2 separate regions of the Homo sapiens genome follow, and region 2 is linked to region 1. Evidence: fine-mapped expression QTL. Tissue or cell type: whole blood. Region 1 holds a variant in brackets; the other region holds the start of a gene. All regions are shown on one strand. Distances are from middle to middle.

Evidence for each region. PIP is the estimated chance that this variant, and not a neighbour inherited with it, causes the effect.
Region 2: it holds the start of RESF1, and the variant in region 1 is fine-mapped to the expression of RESF1 in whole blood (INTERVAL, PIP 0.91).

What each region holds. Positions count from the first base shown.
Region 1 is chr12:31,916,640-31,927,945 of GRCh38, forward strand. No RefSeq gene overlaps it. Among named protein-coding and RNA genes, the nearest start is that of LINC02422, 35 kb to the left of the region's middle. The variant C/T (reference allele first, on the strand shown) is at 5,580.
Region 2 is chr12:31,953,813-31,961,535 of GRCh38, forward strand. RESF1 (retroelement silencing factor 1) reads left to right here and starts at 5,603. Exons shown (of 6, transcript NM_018169.4): 1 at 5,603-5,679; 2 at 6,965-7,059. It overlaps LOC105369725 (a long non-coding RNA gene), which reads right to left and starts at 5,492. Exons shown (of 2, transcript XR_931503.2): 1 at 5,316-5,492; 2 at 4,681-4,992. It also overlaps the pseudogene LOC100132543. RefSeq lists enhancers at 3,225-3,724, 3,728-4,521 and a silencer at 5,574-5,913.

The DNA of each region.
Region 1 (11,306 bases):
CCTGCTTAATTTCTTGAGAAGCTTGGCTTTGTCACCAGCAAATTTATTCTCCAGTCTCTACCACCTCAGAGAGCGTACATTGTTGAGCTTATGTCAGATGGCCAGCTGTGAGTCCAGCCGGGGGTCTGAAATGTCTGTTTTTTCAAATGTGTCATCTCTCAGGGAAATTTGTCTTAATTGTCTCAACCTTCATTGCCTTGATAATGAGGGTCTTTACTTTCTTAGGCTATCTTCAGAAGAAATTTCAGATCTTGAGGGGAACTGCATACTTGCACCCTCTTCAGGCATAATTTATGCATCTGATTATATACCATAAAAAGGCTTACAGGTTTTGAGTCCCAGTTAGAGGTATACCTTTGGAAATTTATTTTGTTTTGTTTTGTTTGAGACAAGCTGCAGAGGTTGCAGTGGCACAATTACAGCTCACTGTAGTCTCGACATTCCAGGCTCAAGTGATTCTCCCACCTCAGCCTCCCAAGTAGCAGAGACTTATACATGCATGTGCCACCATGCCTGGCTAAATTTTTAAAAAAAATTTTTGTAGAGATGGCTTTCTCACTATATTCCCCATACTGGTTTCAGACTCCTGGACTCAGAGATCCTCCAGCCTTGGCCTCCCAAAGTGCTAGGACTATAGGCATGAACCAATGCACCTGGCCAACCTTTGGAAATTTGGACTGTTAACGGCTAAAACTTTTTTTTCTGGAGAGTTCTCCTTTAACACCCGCAGAAAATTCTTTAAATGTTCAAATTGCCTGCTCAACTTTGCTGCAGGATTTACTAAAGTCACTCCAGCATTTTCCAGGCCTTTCTCAGTCCTTTGGAGATGTAAACCTTACCATGTTTTTGAAATGTTAGCATTTAGGGAATTAGCTAAGCAGCATTCCAGCGAGATTGGATTTGAAACAGAGCTAAAGTTCTCCGGACCAACCAAAAAATTCCTTTCCTCAGGGGATGTCTTTAGCTCAGGGGAGAAACATTTATAAGAATTAGCTTGGTTAATTGTTTTGAATTTTTGGTGTGACTCTTGAGGTTTTGGGGTGCCCATTTGTAATTCTTTCCACCCCCATGGGCAGCTTTTGTTTTCCTCTTTTAGTGACTGTCTCTTCTCATTGTCTGTCTGCTGGGCACACAAGGGAAGGTCTGCCTTTGTGGAAGGTCTGGCAGACACTGGGCTGAAAAGCTGAGGCCATAGAGAATATGGTGAACAAATGTGGGGTTGCACCCCAATTGTTGCTAGGGAAGCTTTCTCTAAGCTGTCCTTGGGAGGGTCTGGATCCTGTAAGGGCTGCTAACTTTTGCTCCCTCTTTGGGAAACTTGATTAAAGCCAAGTTTTAATGAAGGGCTTGGTTTAAAAGGGCTTCTTGGTTTGGGTCTCCTGTGTGTTTATTTGTGTTGGTTTTCTCATTTGTTCAGGTATACCTTTGATTTTAAACATCGGTTTATATTTTAAATATAAAATATTTATATAGTTTATATTTAAATTTATGAAATTTATAAATTTATGAAAACTTTTTGTTCCTTTGTTTGTTCAGCCTTCTCTCCTGAGCTAAATGGAACCACATACTCAACAAGTTTATTAAAACATTTCAAAGACAACAGCTTTAAATAGTGATTATTCTAGTGCTGGGCATGGTGGCTCACGCCTGTAATCCCAGCACTTTGGGAGGCTGAGGCGAGCGGATCACTTGAGGCCTGGAGTTTGAGACCAGCCTGGCCAACATAGTGAAATCCTGTCTCTACTAAAAGCACAAAAATTACCCAGGCATGGTGGCACGCGCCTGTAGTCCCAGCTATTCAGGAGGCTGAGACATGAGAATCACTTGAGCCTGGGAGGTGGAGGTTGCAGTGATCTGAGACCGAGCCACTGCACTCCAGCCTGGGTGACAGAGTTGTCTCGGGAAAAACAAACAAATAAATAAAATAGTGATTATTCTAGACCTCTAATAGGCAAATATACCCCCACCCCTGCAAAAACAAACAAACAAAAAACAACAAAAACAAAAAGCTTCTTCTTGGTGCAAATTTCAGAAATGAAGCCAAGAAATAGGAATGTTTGCTATTTGTCCATCTAAAATCTGGTCAAAAGATTTTTTTTAAGAGCTCTACAGTCAAAATCGACTTTTGACTTTTGACTTTTTAGAGCATGAGAATCCCTTGAACTTGGGAGGCAGAGGTTGCCATGAACCGAGATCGTGCCCCTGCACTCCAGCCTGGGTGACAGAGTGAGACTCTGTCTCAAATAACCAAACAAACAGAGCCAAAAGTATATAAGCTTAAACTCGAATTTAGTAATTAATGTCTTAGCATTATATCTTATTTGGAAATGACCTAGATATTCAATGACTATCCATAATTTAATTTAGCTTAGCAAAATTCTAAAGGTAACCATTTTTTATTACTGTATGTTAGGTAAATATCATAAAAGTAAGAAACTTAAAGTTAAATACATGCATGTTTTGCTGACAACTCAGGAGACATAATTGTTTTTATTAAACCAACAATATTAAACTAGCCTTGTCTACCAAAAGATTTACTAAAGTCACATAAACTTAAAAAATATTTCAACTTATTTATGAGCACTCATTTATTTTTAAGTTAATTTGGTACCATGTAGACAATACACAAACATATGTATAGACATATAAATACATGTAGATACAACATATATCATACACATGTATGTGTCTATTTGGCTTTGTTTCTTTGTTTGGGACATGGTCTCGCTATGCTGTCCAGGATGGCCTCAAACTCCTGAGTTCAAATGATCTTTCTGCCTCAGCGACCTGAGTACCTGGGATTATAGCCATGTGCCACTATGCCCAACTCACATGTATGTATCTAAAAGCCAAAAGGATCAAGGTTAAATATGAAAAAGAGTAGAGAGTTAGACCTGAGAGGAACCTATCCACCCACAGCTCTTGGGGCTCTACGAGGAAAACAGTGATCCTCCCACCCCCAGAAAAGGAATATGTGGCCTTCAAGGGGTCCTCAAGGAGACCCAGGACTGTTATAAGTCTTCGTTACCAGCTGGGCTCAGTGGCTCATGCCTATAATCCCAGCACTTTGGGAGGCTGAGGTGAGAGTATTGCTTGAGGCCAGGAGTTCAAGACCAGCCTAGGCAACACAGCGAGACCCTCTTTCTACAAACAATTAACAAAAATTCAATAATATTAAACAAAAATAATAAAACATAGTTGTTAGTTGCCCTCATGTGGTAGCAAAGGTGGCAAGAGGAAGGAGGGATATAAATGGAAGAACAAGTCTTAGAGGAGCCAGTTTGAGGTCTTGTTCCCAAAAAGCCAAATAAATTTTACATTATCCTTGGCAAAATTAATGTCAACAAGAAAAAAAGCAGAGAGGTGGAGCACATATAGTCAGCTGGAGTTTAAGAGGAGAGGAATTCAGGCTGGGTGAGATGGCCCACACTTTGGGAGAACAAGGTAGGAGGATTGCTTGAGGCCAGGAGTTCAAGACCAGCATGGGCAACATAGTGAGACGAAGTCTCTACAAATATATATTTTTTTGATTAGCCAGCATGGCAGCATGCATTTATAATCCCAGCTATCTGGAGGCTGAGGCAAGAGGATCCCTCGAGCCCCAGAGTTCGAGGCTGTAGTGAACTATGATTACACCACTGCACTCCAGCCTGGGTGATAGAGTGAGACCCTCTCTCTCTCAAAAAAAAAAAAAAAAAAAAGATTTATATGTATTATATATGTATAAATACATAGCCTAAATATCAACTTTTACTTAAATTATACAGGAGGTATTTCATTGTCAAATAAGAAATAACGTTTTACCTTCTTGAAGTTGTATTTGTATAAATGCATTTTTAATATGTGTTCCAAAATTGTATAAAATTTCTAAAAAGATCTGATATATCTTGGTATGTGTTATCAGTCATAATTCTAATTATTGTGTTAAATTGTTGACACCACAGAAATAACCATACTTCCTTATCAGTTCCATCATTAATCATGACTATTCTCTTTTGTCATCCACAGGCAATTGTTATTTTACCTTGTTTTTTTTTTTTTTTTTTTTTTTTTGAGGCTGAGTCTCACTCTGTCGCCCAGGCTGGAGTGCAGTGGCACGATCTCAGCTGACTGCAAGCGCTCCGCCTCCCGGGTTCATGCCGTTCTCCTGCCTCAGCCTCCCAAGTAGCTGGGATTACAGGTGCCTGCCACCACGCCTGGCGAATTTTTTGTATTTTTAGTAGAGACTGGGTTCCACCATTTTGGCCAGGCTGGTCTTAAACTCCTGACCTCGTGATCCACCCGCCTTGGCCTCCCAAAGTGCTGGGACTACAGGCGTGAGCCACTGCACCTGGCCTACCTTGATCTTGATTCTCTTCAAAAGGTGGTTTATAATCAGCTACAGTCTAAAATTTGCTTTTTTTTTTTTTCTTTGGAGACAGGGTCTCACTCTGTCACCACTCAGGCTGGAATGCAGTGGTGTGATCATAGCTCACTGCAGCCTTGAACTCCTGGGCTCAGGTGATCCTCCCACCTCAGCCTCCCAAGTAACTAGGACCACAGGCGCATGCCACCATGGCTGGCTAATTTATTTTTATTTTTTTGTAGAAATGAGGTCTCACTATGTTGTTCAGGCTGCTCTGGAACTCCTGGGCTCAAGTGATCTGCCCGCTTTGACCTTGCAAAGTACTAGGATTACAGGCATAAAACACGACATGCAGCCCCAAATTTGCTGCTTCTTCAAGGAAATTCATGAAAAAAAACCATAACAAGCATTCTTGAATACAGATTTTTTATAATTTTTGAGATCATACCATTGGACTAGGTAAAAACTTCCAGAACTCTGATGAGTAAACTAAAGTGTTCATGAAGATTCCTAATCCGACATCAAGAAAAACAAGAATTAATTACATGGGACTCAACTGATGAAGAATTGAAATTTTTTATGAGTTCTTTTTATCTGAAGCATTCCACATTCTTTATATTTTGTTCTTCAGAGTCAAGGAAAATTTTATTCTTCTTTAAGCTATTTATAGCTTAGATCAATTGGGTAAAGTAGACTTTTGTGAGCAGAATTGAAACATTTGCATTTCTGTCTACCTGGTCCCTTCAGAATTTGGAAACCATTTGTGATTAATCTTCTTTTATGGCAATATAGTCATTTGCATAAGTTCAGTAACAATTTGCTGTCTTTGTAGGAAGAGACATTAGACCCAACAAAACTCCTTAGAATCCCTAGCATGTGAAAGATTAGATAATAGAAGAGTTTCAGATTATTTACTCAGTGCTCAAGGAGGAGTCTGCTATATCCAACACCTCTGGTTCTGCTTGGGTAAATAAAAAATTCAAGGCTGGGTGCTGTGGCTCACACTTCTAATCCCGGCACTTTGGGAGGCCAAGGCAGGCAGGAGTTCAAGACCAGCCTGGGCAACATGGTGAAACTCCATCCCTAATAAAACTACAAAAATTAGCCAGGTGTGGTGGTACACACCTGTAGTCCCACCTACTAGGGGGTGCTGAGGTTGGAGGATCACTTGAGCCTGGGACGTTGAGGCTGCGGTGAGCTGAGATCCCACCACTGCACTCCAGCCTGGTGACGA[C/T]GTGATAGCCTGTCTCAAAAAATAATAATAATAAAAAAATTCAGGTAGTACTGGAAACCTCGAAGATTCCAAGATTAGTCAGATCCTTAAAAGGTATACCTTCTGGTAGTCTTTTTAATTGGGTTAATCTTGAATTTTCTGATCTTTTTTGTTTGCTTCCTACAGTTATTGGAAATATTTTAAGATCTGGGTTCCAACTTATCCTGTTATTCTTGTTTGTGACCCTAGTCATGTTTATCCTCGTTAAACTATATTCTTGTTAAATGGCTTTGAGGTAGTCTTGTTGCCTGAGGTATTACCTGGAGCTCTTTGTCTCATGACCAAGAAGAGTAAGGAATGTGGACACCAAGGGTGAGTTTAGAGCAAAAGTTTAATAAGTGAAAGAGGAAAGCTCTCCACTGCAGAGAGGGGACCTGAGAGGGTTGCCATTTCACAATTGAGTACAAAGGCTGTTATGAGGAACCCAGAGGAACCAGATGGGTCTGGGCATTTCATTTGCATAACTGAAATTGCATAAGTTGTGAATTTCTGGTAGCTCCACCCTGTACCCCTAGTGTGCTGGCTGACTGGTGGTTGTCTTTAGAAAAGGCACCACTTAGAAAATGGCATGATGGTGTAAAGGACCAACTGGAGCCTTGGCTCACAACCAGCCTAGTGTTGGAGTGATGATTCATAGAGGTTTGGCTCACAGTCCAAAGTATGCCCAAAAAAGGAAAGGAATGTACTCACCACAGCCCACCATCTACATGCCCACAAAAGGAAAAGAAACTATTTCCTGGAAGGCTGCTGCTTACACAAAGAACAAAGGTGCTTCTATGTTGGGCCTTGCTTCCTTATCTGTGCAGCTATGGGTATATCCTAGGCAAGCTGCCTGTGCTAGTTCCCTTATCTGTATCTGTAGCCTGAGTTTTCAGGTTGTTCCTTTGTTTGAAAGAATTCTACTGAGCACCTGCCCTAACCGCCTTCCTAGCTGGTTCTTTCTTTTCTCCTCTCTCAGCTTGATGCCACACTGTTGCTGTCAACGAAACTAAAATTATGGTGGCTCAACACATTGAACTGACAGATTAGGCCTACAATCATGAATCCTACCCTAACCACATATGTGCACCACAATTGGGGCCCACATCCTCAACTCCTCCTTGTTGCTCAAATTTGGACTATTCCATTTGACACAGATCATCCACTATCATTACCATGACTCCCTCCTCCATGGGACATGACTTCCTGGGACAAATCTATTCCAGAACCAAAGGGCTTACTGAAATAATTGATCTCAGTGGTTTCTAAGGAAATATTTAAATCAAAAGGGGAAAATCTGAAAAGAAATCCAAAATGGAGATGATTATGCCAGAGGTCTCTAAAAAGGAGCCAGGAGGGCATAAGGAGTTGGACCCCCATCACCCATATACTCAGATGAAATTTGACATGTTCAAATTGGACCAAATCACAAACATCCTAAAGAAGCAGCTGAATTTGATGTGAACTGTTTACACTGGGCCTGATCACAAATCTCCTGAGAAGACAGCTGTGCCAAATTAGGTCGTTCATCACCAAGAGACATCTAAGCTGTCAATCAGCCATTGTCAATCATAGACTGTGCTAAAATTTTCCACTTGTATAAACTTGCCAGGAACCTTTATAAGCCCCTGCCCAGCTTGTCTGTATGGAATATGATTTAGCTGCTTGCTCGATTTGTGTCTCTCAAATTGCAATTTATAAAAGATCTCAATTAAAATACCTTCTCTCATATGCTTGTCTGCAGTGTTGGTTTTACTTCTTATTAGTTGCCAATAGATAAAAAATGGACATGCACAAAAATTGATTCTATATTTATCTAGGATGAATTGTTCAATAAATAGTATTGTGACAACTGAGTAGCCAGCTGGAAAACGAGAGTTGAACTCCTACAGCTTACCTTCCATTACAGTTAATTCTAGGTGGCTCAAAGATGTAAACATTTTGCAAAGTTGTAAATCCATAATGAAAACCAGGAAAAGATGTACATCCTCTTCCCAAGCATGCTAAAGTCTTAAGCAGGCATTACATAAAATAGGAATTACAAATAGCAAACAGTTAAAGCTGTTATCCCCCATAGTGAAGAGGAAAGCCACAAAGTTATCTGTGTTATCCACCAGAATGACTGAGTTTATTTTATTTATTTATTTATTTATTTTATTTTTTTGAGACGGAGTCTCACTCTGTCGCCCAGGCTGGAGTGCAGTGGCGTGACCTCAGCTCACTGCAAGCTCCACCTTCCGGGTTCACGCCATTCTCCTGCCTCAGCCTCCTGAGTAGCTGGGACTACAAGCACCCGCCACCACGCCCGGCTAATTTTTTGTGTTTTTAGTAGCTGGGATTACAGTTGCCCACTATCATGCCTGGCTAAGTTTTTTTTTTTTTTTTTTGAGACAGAGTTTTGCTCTTGTTGCCTGGGCTGGAGTACAATGGCATGATCTCAGCTCACTGCAACCTCTGCAAAATACAAAAATTAGCTGGGTATGGTGGCATGCACCTGTAGTCCCAGCTACTCGGGAGGCTAAGGCAGGAGAATCGCTTGAACCTGGGAGGCAGAAGTTGCAATGAGCCAAGATCACACCACTGCACTCCAGCCTGGCGACAGAGCGAGACTCCGTCTTAAAAAAAAAAAATATATATATATATATATATATATATATATATATTTTTTTTAAGAATGTCCATTTCACCTTTGCAAAAGCCAAAAGATAGAAACAACTCAAATATGATCTATAGAATATCCATATAGTGATACCCAAGAAGCTAGAATATTAGTTGCCTTTGGAGAAGCAAACTGGATGGCTGAGATGCAGAATTGGGAGTGTGATTAATTTTTCCTTTTATTCTTTTGACCATGCCTAGATTCTACCAGTTAAAAATAATATAAATTATTAATAAAAACATGAAGAGTTGATTAACATACATCACATATTTTGAGTACAGGGATAAATATGGGAGACATGCTGTCCCAGATATCAAAATATAAAGCTATCAAAACATTGTTGGCCAGGCGTGGTGGCACATGCCTACAATACCAGCACTTTGGGAGGTTGGGGGAGGAGACTGGCTTGAGCCCAGGATTGTGAGACCAGCCTGGGCAACATAGTGAGACTCTGTCTCAAAAAAAGAAGAAAAAATAACATTGTCATATTTAAGCAGGGACAAATTGGCCACTGAAAAAGAATAAGGTCCAGAAATAGACTCAAGTGCATATGTATACTATATAGCAACCTAAAGTTTCCTTTCAAATTGTGGGGAAAGATGAACTATTCAACAGGTGCTGTTTTGTTTGTTTTCAAGAAAAATAAAAATCCTTACATCATATCAAATAATAAATACTTTTGGTGGCAGGGCAGGGGGGATTTAAAAATTTTAAGCCAAATAAAGATATAAAGCTAACAGAAAAAAAATTTTAGAAAATACTTTCATAACTTCCAAGTGAGAAGGTATGTGTGTATAAATATATACCTTAAATATGTATACTCTATGTATATTTAAAGAAAATGTATACCAATTCTGTAAAGAGGTAAATGATAATTGCTTGATTTTTTTTTTTTTTTTTTTTTTTGAGATAGAGTCTCACTCTGTCGCCCAGGCTAGAGTACAGTGGCGCGATCTCAGCTCACTGCAAACTCCGCCTCCCGGGTTCATGCCATTCTCCTGCCTCAGCTTCCCGAGTAGCTGGGACTACAGGTGCCTGCCACCACGCCCAGCTAATTTTTTGTATTTTTAGTAGAGACAGGGTTTCATGGTGTTAGCCAGGATGATCTCGATCTCCTGACCTCGAGATCCACCTGCCTCGGCCTCCCAAAGTGCTGGGATTACAGGCGTGAGCCACCGCGCCCAGCCAATTGCTTGATTTTTGATACCATGCCAGATCATTTTCCAAGTCCACTTGCCCGAATGTCACACTCGTAAGAAATGATAAGTATCCATGTGGGATTGGTTCTAGGATCCACCCTCAGTTACCAAAATCCACGGATGCTTAAGTCTCTTATGTAAAATTACATAGTATTTGCATATGACCTACTCACATCCTCCTACACACTTTAAATCATCTCTAGATTACTTATAATACATAATACAATGTAAATGCTATGTAAATAGTTGTAATTCTGTATTGTTTAGGGACTAGTGACAAGAAAAAATAGTCTGTACATGTTCAGTACAGAAGCAATCTTTTTTTTTTTTAAGAGACAGGGTCAGGCGTGTATACAGGCGGCACATGTTAATAAACTGTTTCGGCCAGGCACGGTGGATCATGCCTGTAATCCCAGCACTTTGGGAGGCCGAGGTGGGCAGATCACGGGGTCAGGAGATTAAGACCATCCTGACTAACACGGTGAAACCCCGTCTCTACTAAAAATACAAAAAATTAGCCGGGCGTGGTAGCAGGCGCCTGTAGTCTCAGCTACCGGGAGGCTGAGGCAGGAGAACGGCGTGAACCCGGGAGGCGGAGCTTGCAGTGAGCCGAGATCGCACCACTGCACTCCAGCCTGGGCCACAGTGCGAGACTCCATCTGAAAAAAAAAAAAAAAAAAAAGACGGGGTCTCAGTCTGTTGCCCAGGCTGGAGTGCAGTGGCACAATCATAGCTCACTGCAGCCTCAAACTCCTGGGCTCAAGCAATCCTCCCACCTCAGCCTTCTGAGTAGCTGGAACTCCACACCACTGTGCTAGGCCTCTTTTTTTGTTTTGTTTTTGGTTTTTTTGAGACAGTTTTGCTCTTGTTGCCCAGGCAGGAGTGCAGTAGCACAATCTCGGCTCACTGCAACCTCTGCCTCCCAGGTTCAAGTGATTCTTCTGCCTCAGCCTCCCGAGTAGCTGGGACTACAGGCGAGTGCCACCACGCCCGACTAATTTTTGTATTTTTAGTAGAGACAGGGTTTCACCATATTGGCCAGTCTGGTCTCGAACTCCTGACCTCGTGATCCACCCACCTCGGCCTCCCAAAATGCTGGGATTACAGGCGTGAGCCACTGCACCCCGCCAATTTTTTGTATTTTCAGTAGAGACAGGGTTTCCCCATGTTGGTCAGGCTGGTCTCGAACTCCCGACCTCAGGTGATCTGCCCGCCTCAGCCTCCCGAAGTGCTGGGATCACAGGCATGAGCCACCTCGCCTAGCCTGTTTTTTGTTTTTTTGAGACAGGGTCTTGCTCTGTCACCCAGGCTGGAGTGCAGTTTTGCAGTGGCATGATCCCGGCTCACTGCAGCCTTAACTGCTCAGGCTCAAGCGACCCTCCCACCACAACCTCCCAAGTAGCTGTGTCCCACAGGCACACACCACAGTGCCTGGCTAATTTTTTTATTTTCTGTAGACATGGAGTCTCCCCATGTACTCAGGCTGGTCTCAATCTCCTGGGCTCAAATGATCCTCCCCCATCTTGTTCTCCCAAAGTTCTGGGATCACAGGCGTGAGCCACCGCCCCCAACTACTTTTTTAAAAATATTTTGATCTGCAGTTGGTTGAATCCTCAAATGTAAAACCCACAAATATGAAGAGCCGACAAGAACCAACATCTGACGAAGGTACAGAAAAACTACTGCACTACTGCTCTATAAGATTAGAAATTAATCTGTAAACATTGATACATTGTTAGGATGCTTTTGCCACCTGATAGAGACATTAATTCCAAATGTTCCAGGTCTTTATTGCCCTGAGAAAGTTAAGCAATCTTATAACTAATTTAGCAAATTTGTGTAAGGATTTTG
Region 2 (7,723 bases), 35 kb after region 1:
CACTAGGGAGCTGCAAAACAAGATTCAAACCTTGGGGCATACTTAAGAGCACTGAACAGGTTTGAGCCAAAGAGCCATTAGAGGGCCAGAGCCGGGTCCTGAACCAACAATAGACGGAGATGTGCTAGACACACTGGAGGTGCTGGGGTATAAGGGACCATTGCTAGAGGAGCAAGCCCTTATGAAGGCAGCAGAGTGGACTATATGTAGGAGCATATACGGTATAGGATTATATATATAGGCTTTTATACAGGAAGAAGGTGGTATATACTGTAAAGGAATAGATATATAAACTATATAAATTCCTATACAGGATATGGTTAGGCTTTCAAATAAAATCATTATGCAACTTGGAAGAAAGTATGACTTCTGCTGGAAGAGATGATCTAGAGAGCTTCCAGCTTGAGGTAAATGATTTTTTTAAAAGAAATGGCATGTCCATATTCTGTACTCATATCAGGAGATACTAAAGATCATTTTAAAAAAGGAGGACTGGCTGGGTACAATGGCTCACACCTGTTATCCCAGCACTTTGGGAGACCAAGGTGGACAGATTGCTTGAGTCCCAGGAGTTCAAGGCCAGCCTGGGCAACATGGTGAACCCCATCTCTACAAAAAATACAAAAATCAGCTGGGTGTAGTGGTGCATGCATGTTGTTCCAACTACTTGGGGGCCTGAGGTGGAAGAATTGCTTAAGTCAAGGAGGTCAAGCCCACAGTGAGCTGAGATCGCGCCACTGTAAATAAAAAAATATAAAAAGGACTGTTTGAAACTCCTATTATTTTTAAGTACAGAACTTGAAGCTTCACAGATATTACAGAACAAGAAACATTAAAATTCTCAATTAGATAAAAATAATGAAATTTATCAGGAAGTTCAAGTTCTGTGTGATAACCTTGGTGTACCCAAGTAAACAACTTCTGACATTCTGGTTATGCTAAACCAAGTGGAATCAAAGGTGAAAGACAGGCAGGACGCAGTGGCTCATGCCTATAATCCCAGCACTTTGTGAGGCAGAGATGGGAGGATCTCTTGAGCCCAGGAGTTGGAGACCAATTTGGGTGACATAGCAAGATCCCATCTTATTTCAAATTTTTAAAAATTGTTAATTTTTTTATTAAAATTAAAGAAAACCACTCTGCTGAAAATTAATTTAAATTTGAAACAGGCAGAACAACTGGAAAGAGTCAATGATGCTCTTTCCTGTGAACATGAGTGCCTCTAGCGAATGTTATGAAACAATTAGATGCGGCAATACAGTCCGTTGCACGGTGTGATACAGCCAAGGTAAGAAAAGATGACACAGCAAGAATTTACCAGCCTCAGTGTTATGCTTTGTCACCCAAGACAGCGATTATAATGGTGCATCTACTTGCTGCTCATGATAATCTATCCAAGATCATTAGGACAAGCAGTGGAGCCAGCCAGATGATGGCATGTGCCATTAATAAGGTGCTGATGGGAAGGGTGCCTGACAGGGGAGGCTGGCCAAATGAAATTGAACCACCACCCTCTGAAATGCCCCCTTGGCAAAAGAGACAAGAAGGCAGTGGCGGAAGGGGTGGTTGGGGTGGTGGTTGTGGAGGTAGAGGTGGTAGTAGAAGAGGCTGTGGGGGTGGAGGTGGAAGAGTTGGCTGGGGTAGAGGAGGATGGGAAAGTGGTGGGGGAGAGGGAGGAGGTGGGATGGAGGTGGTAAAGGAGGTTTCTAAGGCAGAGGAGATGATGGTGGGAGGGGAGATTATGGTGGAAAAGATTATGTAGATCCATATGGAGGAGGTGGTGATGGTGGTGGATATAGGAGATACTGAAGACTACAAAAATTAAAAACCAAAACCAACAAACCTCAAGCGCAAAGGAATAGTCTGCCCTCTTATGTCACAAGCACTAACTAACCACCTCTGCCCTTTCTCATCCCTTAATCATTCAGACAAGATTTCCTTGTTTACTTCCTCCTATAAAAACCCTAAGTCTATTTCATTTTCTTTGAAAAGATTCCTCTGCATTAATGGATGTTGTCCTTACTACAATAGCATGAAAAAAAAAAAAAGTCTCCTTAATGCAGCTTAGCAATTTTCCAGGCTTGATATCAGTGACTCCATCTTGGGCTATTGACTCCATGCTGAGCTGCTGCTAAACTTTGAGGCCCACGAAGAAACTGTGAAAAATATTTCCTTCACAAACAACTGTTATAAATAAAGTTTTGGTGTTGCAAAAGAAATAGCACTCGAATATAAATTTTCTTTTTAATTCTCAGCAAGGCAATGTACTTCTTTTTTTTTTTTTTTTGAGACAGAGTCTTGCTCTGTCGCCCAGGCTGGAGTGCGTGTCGCAATCTCGGCTCACTGCAAGCTCCGCCTCCCGGGTTCATGCCATTCTCCTGCCTCAGCCTCCGGAGTAGCTGGGACTACAGGCACCTGCCACCACGCCCAGCTAATTTTTTGTATTTTTTAGTGTTAGCCATGATGGTCTTGATCTCCTGACCTCATGATCCGCCTGCCTCGGCCTCCCAAAGTACTGGGATTACAGGCGTGAGCCACTGCGCCCGGCGGCAATGTACTTCTATAGACGGGTGCGCCCTCACAGATGGAGCAATGGTGAGCTCACACCTGGGCAAGGGAGGGGAAGGGGTTCTTATTCCTGATGCACGTGGCCTCTGCTGCTGTGTCGTTCCCCTGTTGGCTAGGGTTAGACCGCACAGGCTAAACTAATTCTGATTGGCTAATTTAAAGAGAGTGATGGGGTGAGCGGTTTGGCAGGAAAAATGGTTAAGGCGGGGCAGGAAATCGGAATGAGTCAGGGTGGAGCAGGTGATTGAAATGAGTCAGGGTGGAGCAGGTGATGGAAAAAGGTTGCTTTACGAGGAAGTTAAGTTTAAAAGTAAAAGGCAAAGATTGACCATACTGACATATTGATTCTTTGAAGAGAAATTTAGAATTCATATCTAACACAACCGTTTTTGCAACAACACACAACCCAAGAAAGCTGGTCTCAATATTATTATTATTATTATTATTATTTTCCGAGACAGGCTCTTACTCTGTCACCCAGGCCGGAGTTCAGTGGCTCAATCTTGGCTCACTGCAACCTCTGCCTCCCAAGCTCAAGTGATCCCCCCATCTCAGCCTCCCAAGTAGCTGGGACTACAGGCGCATGCCACCACTCCTGGCTAATTTTTTTTGTTTTTTGTATATTTTTTGTAGAGATTGGGTTCACCATGTTGGCAAGGCTGCTCTCTCAAACTCCTGGCCTCAAGTGATCCTCCCCAAAGTGCTGGGATTACAAGCATAAGCCACCACGCCTGATCCCCAATCTTTTTTTGTTTGTTTTGTTTCATGAGACAGACTCTTTCTGTGGCCCACGCTGGAGTGCAGTGGCGTGATCTCGGCTCACTGCAACCTCTGCTTCCTGGGTTTAAGCAATTCTCCCGCCTCAGCCTCCCGAGTAGCTGAGAATTACAGGTGCCCACAACCACGCCTGGCTAATTTTTATATTTTTAGTAGAAACAGGGTTTCACCATGTTGGTCACGTTGGTCTCAAACTCCTGATTTCAAGTGATTCACCCACCTCAGCCTCCCAAACTGTCAGGCCTCTGAGCCCAAGCTAAGCCATCATATCCCCTGTGACCTGCACGTATACATCCAGATGGCCTGAAGCAACTGAAGATCCACAAAAGAAGCGAAAATAGCCTTAACTGATGACATTCCACCATTGTGATTTGTTTCTGCCCCATCCTAACAGATCAATGTATTTTGTAATCTCCCCCACCCTTAAGAAGGTTCTTTGTAATTCTCCCCACCCTTAAGAAGGTTCTTTGTAATCTCCCCCACCCTTAAGAAGGTTCTTTGTAATTCTCCCCACCCTTGAGAATGTACTTTGTGAGATCCACCCCCTGCCCGCAAAACATTGTTCCGCGGAGCCTCTCCCAAAACCTATAAGAATTAAAGATAATCCCACCACCCTTTGCTGACTCTCTTTTCGGACTCAGCCCGCCTGCACCCAGGTGAAATAAACAGTCTTGTTGCTCACGCAAAGCTTGTTTGGTGGTCTCTTCACACGGATGCGCGTGACACAAAGTGCTGGGGTTACAGGCCTGAGCCACCACACCTGGCCACCCCCAATCTTTAAGAATATTCTGGCCGGGCGCGGTGGCTCATGCCTGTAATCCCAGCACTTTGGGAGGCTAAGGCGGGCGGATCAAGAGGTCAGGAGATCGAGACCATCCTGGCTAACATGGTGAAACCCCGTCTCTACTAAAATACAAAAAATTAGCCGGGCATGGTGGCGGGCGCCTGTAGTCCCAGCTACTTGGGAGGCTGAGGCAGCAGAATGGCGTGAACCTGGGAGGCGGAGCTTGCAGTGAGCCGAGATCGTGCCACTGCACTCCAGCCTGGGCGACAGAGCGTGACTCCGTCCCCCCCCCAAAAAAGAAAGAATATTCTGTATGTAGTTTTTTTGTTTTGTTTCTGACAGACGCAAACGCACTCTTCTAGTAATGACTAAAGACTTCTTCGTTTAATTCACCAATGAACTAATCTGACAATTTATGTAACAAATAAATTCCTATAAACATAAGCTCCCTTGCCCCTCTCCAGTGGCACAATCTCTGATTTGCCATCCTGGTTGCAACCTTCATTACTAAGTAAACGCTTACGTAAACCTTAATAATGAGATTCGGGCAATATGATTAAATATTGGTTTATTTGAGTGCAAAGTTTGAGGATGGCGACCCGGTAGGACACAGACTCCAAAAGATGGGGGTCAGTGCTTCGAAAGGGAGAAGTTTGAGGGTCGTTTACACAGGCAGGGTCTGGGAAGCTTAACAGGATGTCAACATTTTCCATAGAAGGTTAACGCATAGCAATTTGATTGGTTCAAGGCAGTGTTTCTTTTTGGGAAGGGTCTATTTAACATTCCACATTAAGGATGTAATAGTCAAGCGGTCATTTATCTTATTCAATGCGTATTTTATCTCAGATGCCATCTGGTCTGAGCTGGGAACAAGAAAATAAGGGAGTTAATCTATAACAAAAGGTCGGCAATTAAGAGGTCGTGCTTCGTGATCTGGTCTCCAAAGTCAACTTTCCTCAGGGACTTTCAGAATCCCCAAATAGACTATCCACTTTCTTTCACACTTATTTGCCTCTAACTTGTTGATTTCTTTTTTTTTTTTCTGTTTTTTAAGGGTTAACAATCTCTTGGGTGCACTCTGACTTCCATGCGCTTTATAGAAAAAATTGGTCCTGAGGCCAGCAGCAACAGTCGGTCTCAGGAACTTGTTAGAAATGCACATTTTTCAGCCCCACCCCAAACCTACTGAATCAGCAGTTTTGCTGGTGGTTCTCAATCTCTCTTTAACGTGCCCTCTGGGTGCTGCGGATGCACGCTGAAGGTAGAAGATCGCTGCAGGAGATTTCCGCGTCGGGCAGATGAAAGCGCTCTGCAAGCCCGGGTGTTATCTGCGGGCCGGGTCCGCGGCTTCTCTGGTGGCACTAGGACCGCGGCGGCGCGGCCCTCGCAGCCACCGCCTCGGGCGTGAGGCGGAGCGTAGCTGTTCCTGGATCCTGGGCCTGGCTCCTCGACCCGCCCCTGGAGGCGGACCCCACTTGACTTAAACTCTGGGGCCCGGGAGGCCGCCGGTTTTCTCCCCGCTTGCCGGGGTGGTCCTCTTCCCTTTGTCGGTAAGTGTGAGACGAGCACCCCGAGGTCCCTCCGCCTTCCGGGGTCCGGGCGGGGCGGGGGCCGGGAGCCGGGAGCCAGAGGCACTCGCGGTCCGGGCCTGCGCGCGGCGCAGAGCGCTTTTGTTCTGCGGCAAAGACGCAGTCGCGGGCGGCCCCGGAACCCGGGCCTCGGGCCCCGCCGGCTCGCGCGTCCCGCCGTCCGCCCACCGGAGCTGGGCCGGGCCGCCGCGCTTGCTTCTGCCCGCCGCACCGGGGCCGGCCCTGGGCCTCCGCGGATGCCGAGCCTTGCACCGGAGGGCGGGCCTCGCTGGCTGTTTTCCCTCATTGCCTGGCTCTGCGCGGTAGAGGTCGCGAGTGGCGAAGGCTAGGACGCATTTTGTCGAACTGCGAGGCGCGGCTGGTGAGGCGGGTGGGTATGAGAGCTGCTTATGTTTTTAAGGCTTTCCTGTCGCTGGAGTGAAAAAGAAAAATCTTTTTTTTTTTTTGCTATTTCCCGAGGGTTCTCCTCCTCCCCGGCCCTCTTAAGCCGAAGCCTCCTGGAACAGAATTGCTGTACTGGCATCTATCTCCAAGTGGTCCGCGAACGCTTCTGCGCCGGCGATGGTTTCTGTTCCTCAGCAATAGTTCCTTGAGGCATTTTTAAATGCACAAACGCATACCCATCTTAGGTGTTCTCGAGGGACACGGATTCCCTAAGCAAACGTCCTTAGGGTCCTGAGTTCAGCAGCAAACTTTCGGGGAATCATTTCCGTGAAAACAATTTATTTGTAGTACATCGAGTGCATACTGTCTTAACATAAGGATGTGTATGAGCTTGAGGCGCATTTTCATTTAGTGGCGGGCGGGTGCATTTCAGTAGGCGGGCCGCAGAGCTTGTTTGGGGATTGCATTTTTCTGCTAAATGTGTTAGCTTTAATCATGTTTCAGTCACTGTTAATGTGCATGCATGTTAAGGTTTTAGGTTTTTTCCCCTGTGCAGTCGGATTTTTTTCTGTTTAATATTAATCCAATAAAGACAAGTGCAGAGATAAAGTATTATTGTTTTGCAGTGATACTACAATAGCGGACCTAGAGGAGCGCACATAAATTCTAACTTAAGTGAATGGTATTTTCAGGCCAGACCTAGTTTCTATTTCTGTTACTTAGGACACTTAATAAGAATTCAGTAAACTTAGCATGCTTTCAGTGCAGCCATAAAAGAAAACAGTTTTGCACAGCAGTGTCATATCTAGTAAACACATTAGCATGTGCTCTTTTATTATAAAATGTTTCTTGCTGTCCCTAGGACCAAAGAAGTAAACACTGTGTGGAGAGGGACTGACGTGTTTGGAGGGAAATGGGAATGTACACGATAATTAAAGAGTAAAGTTGTGCTCAACGGTAAGTGTATCACCTCTAAGAAACCCGCCCTGATTTAACCAGGCGGTTATTCACACTCAACTATGGAGTAATTCACCTATTACCGAATAAAATTACTAGCTCAGTGAATCAACATCGGTTTTAAATTAAACTGTGGGTCACAATGGAATTGACAGCAAAGCTTGAGAAGAAATGTTGTTGGCATAGTACTGAAAAATCAGTTGTTAATCTTAGCAAAATAAGGAAAGAGGTCTTTGGTAAGGGAATTGTGGTGGAAGTTACCTGGGCAGAGGTCTGCTTCTGTCTGTGCTGTGTTTATTTGATTGTTTTTATTATATTTTATTACTGTTGGTGGCACATAGGGGAATGTGGCGCAGAGCACCACTCTGGGAGGATGCTTCCCGTGCAGCCAAAGTGATCATGTCCAGGGCTTTCATCTGTAACCACAAAGTGTGTTAGGAAGTCTCACCTAATGATTAAGACCATGGTCCCTGTAACCACACTGCTTTGGTTCAGATCTTGGCTGTAGCACTCAGCCAACCCTGGAAAATAAACCTCTGCCTGTTCTCTCATCTATAAAATGGGGACAAGCACTAATGTCATAGGATTGTTATGGTAGAGTTACATGAGTTTCATGCATATCACAGTTAAACAGCTCCTGATGCATGGCAAGTGCCCAATAAAT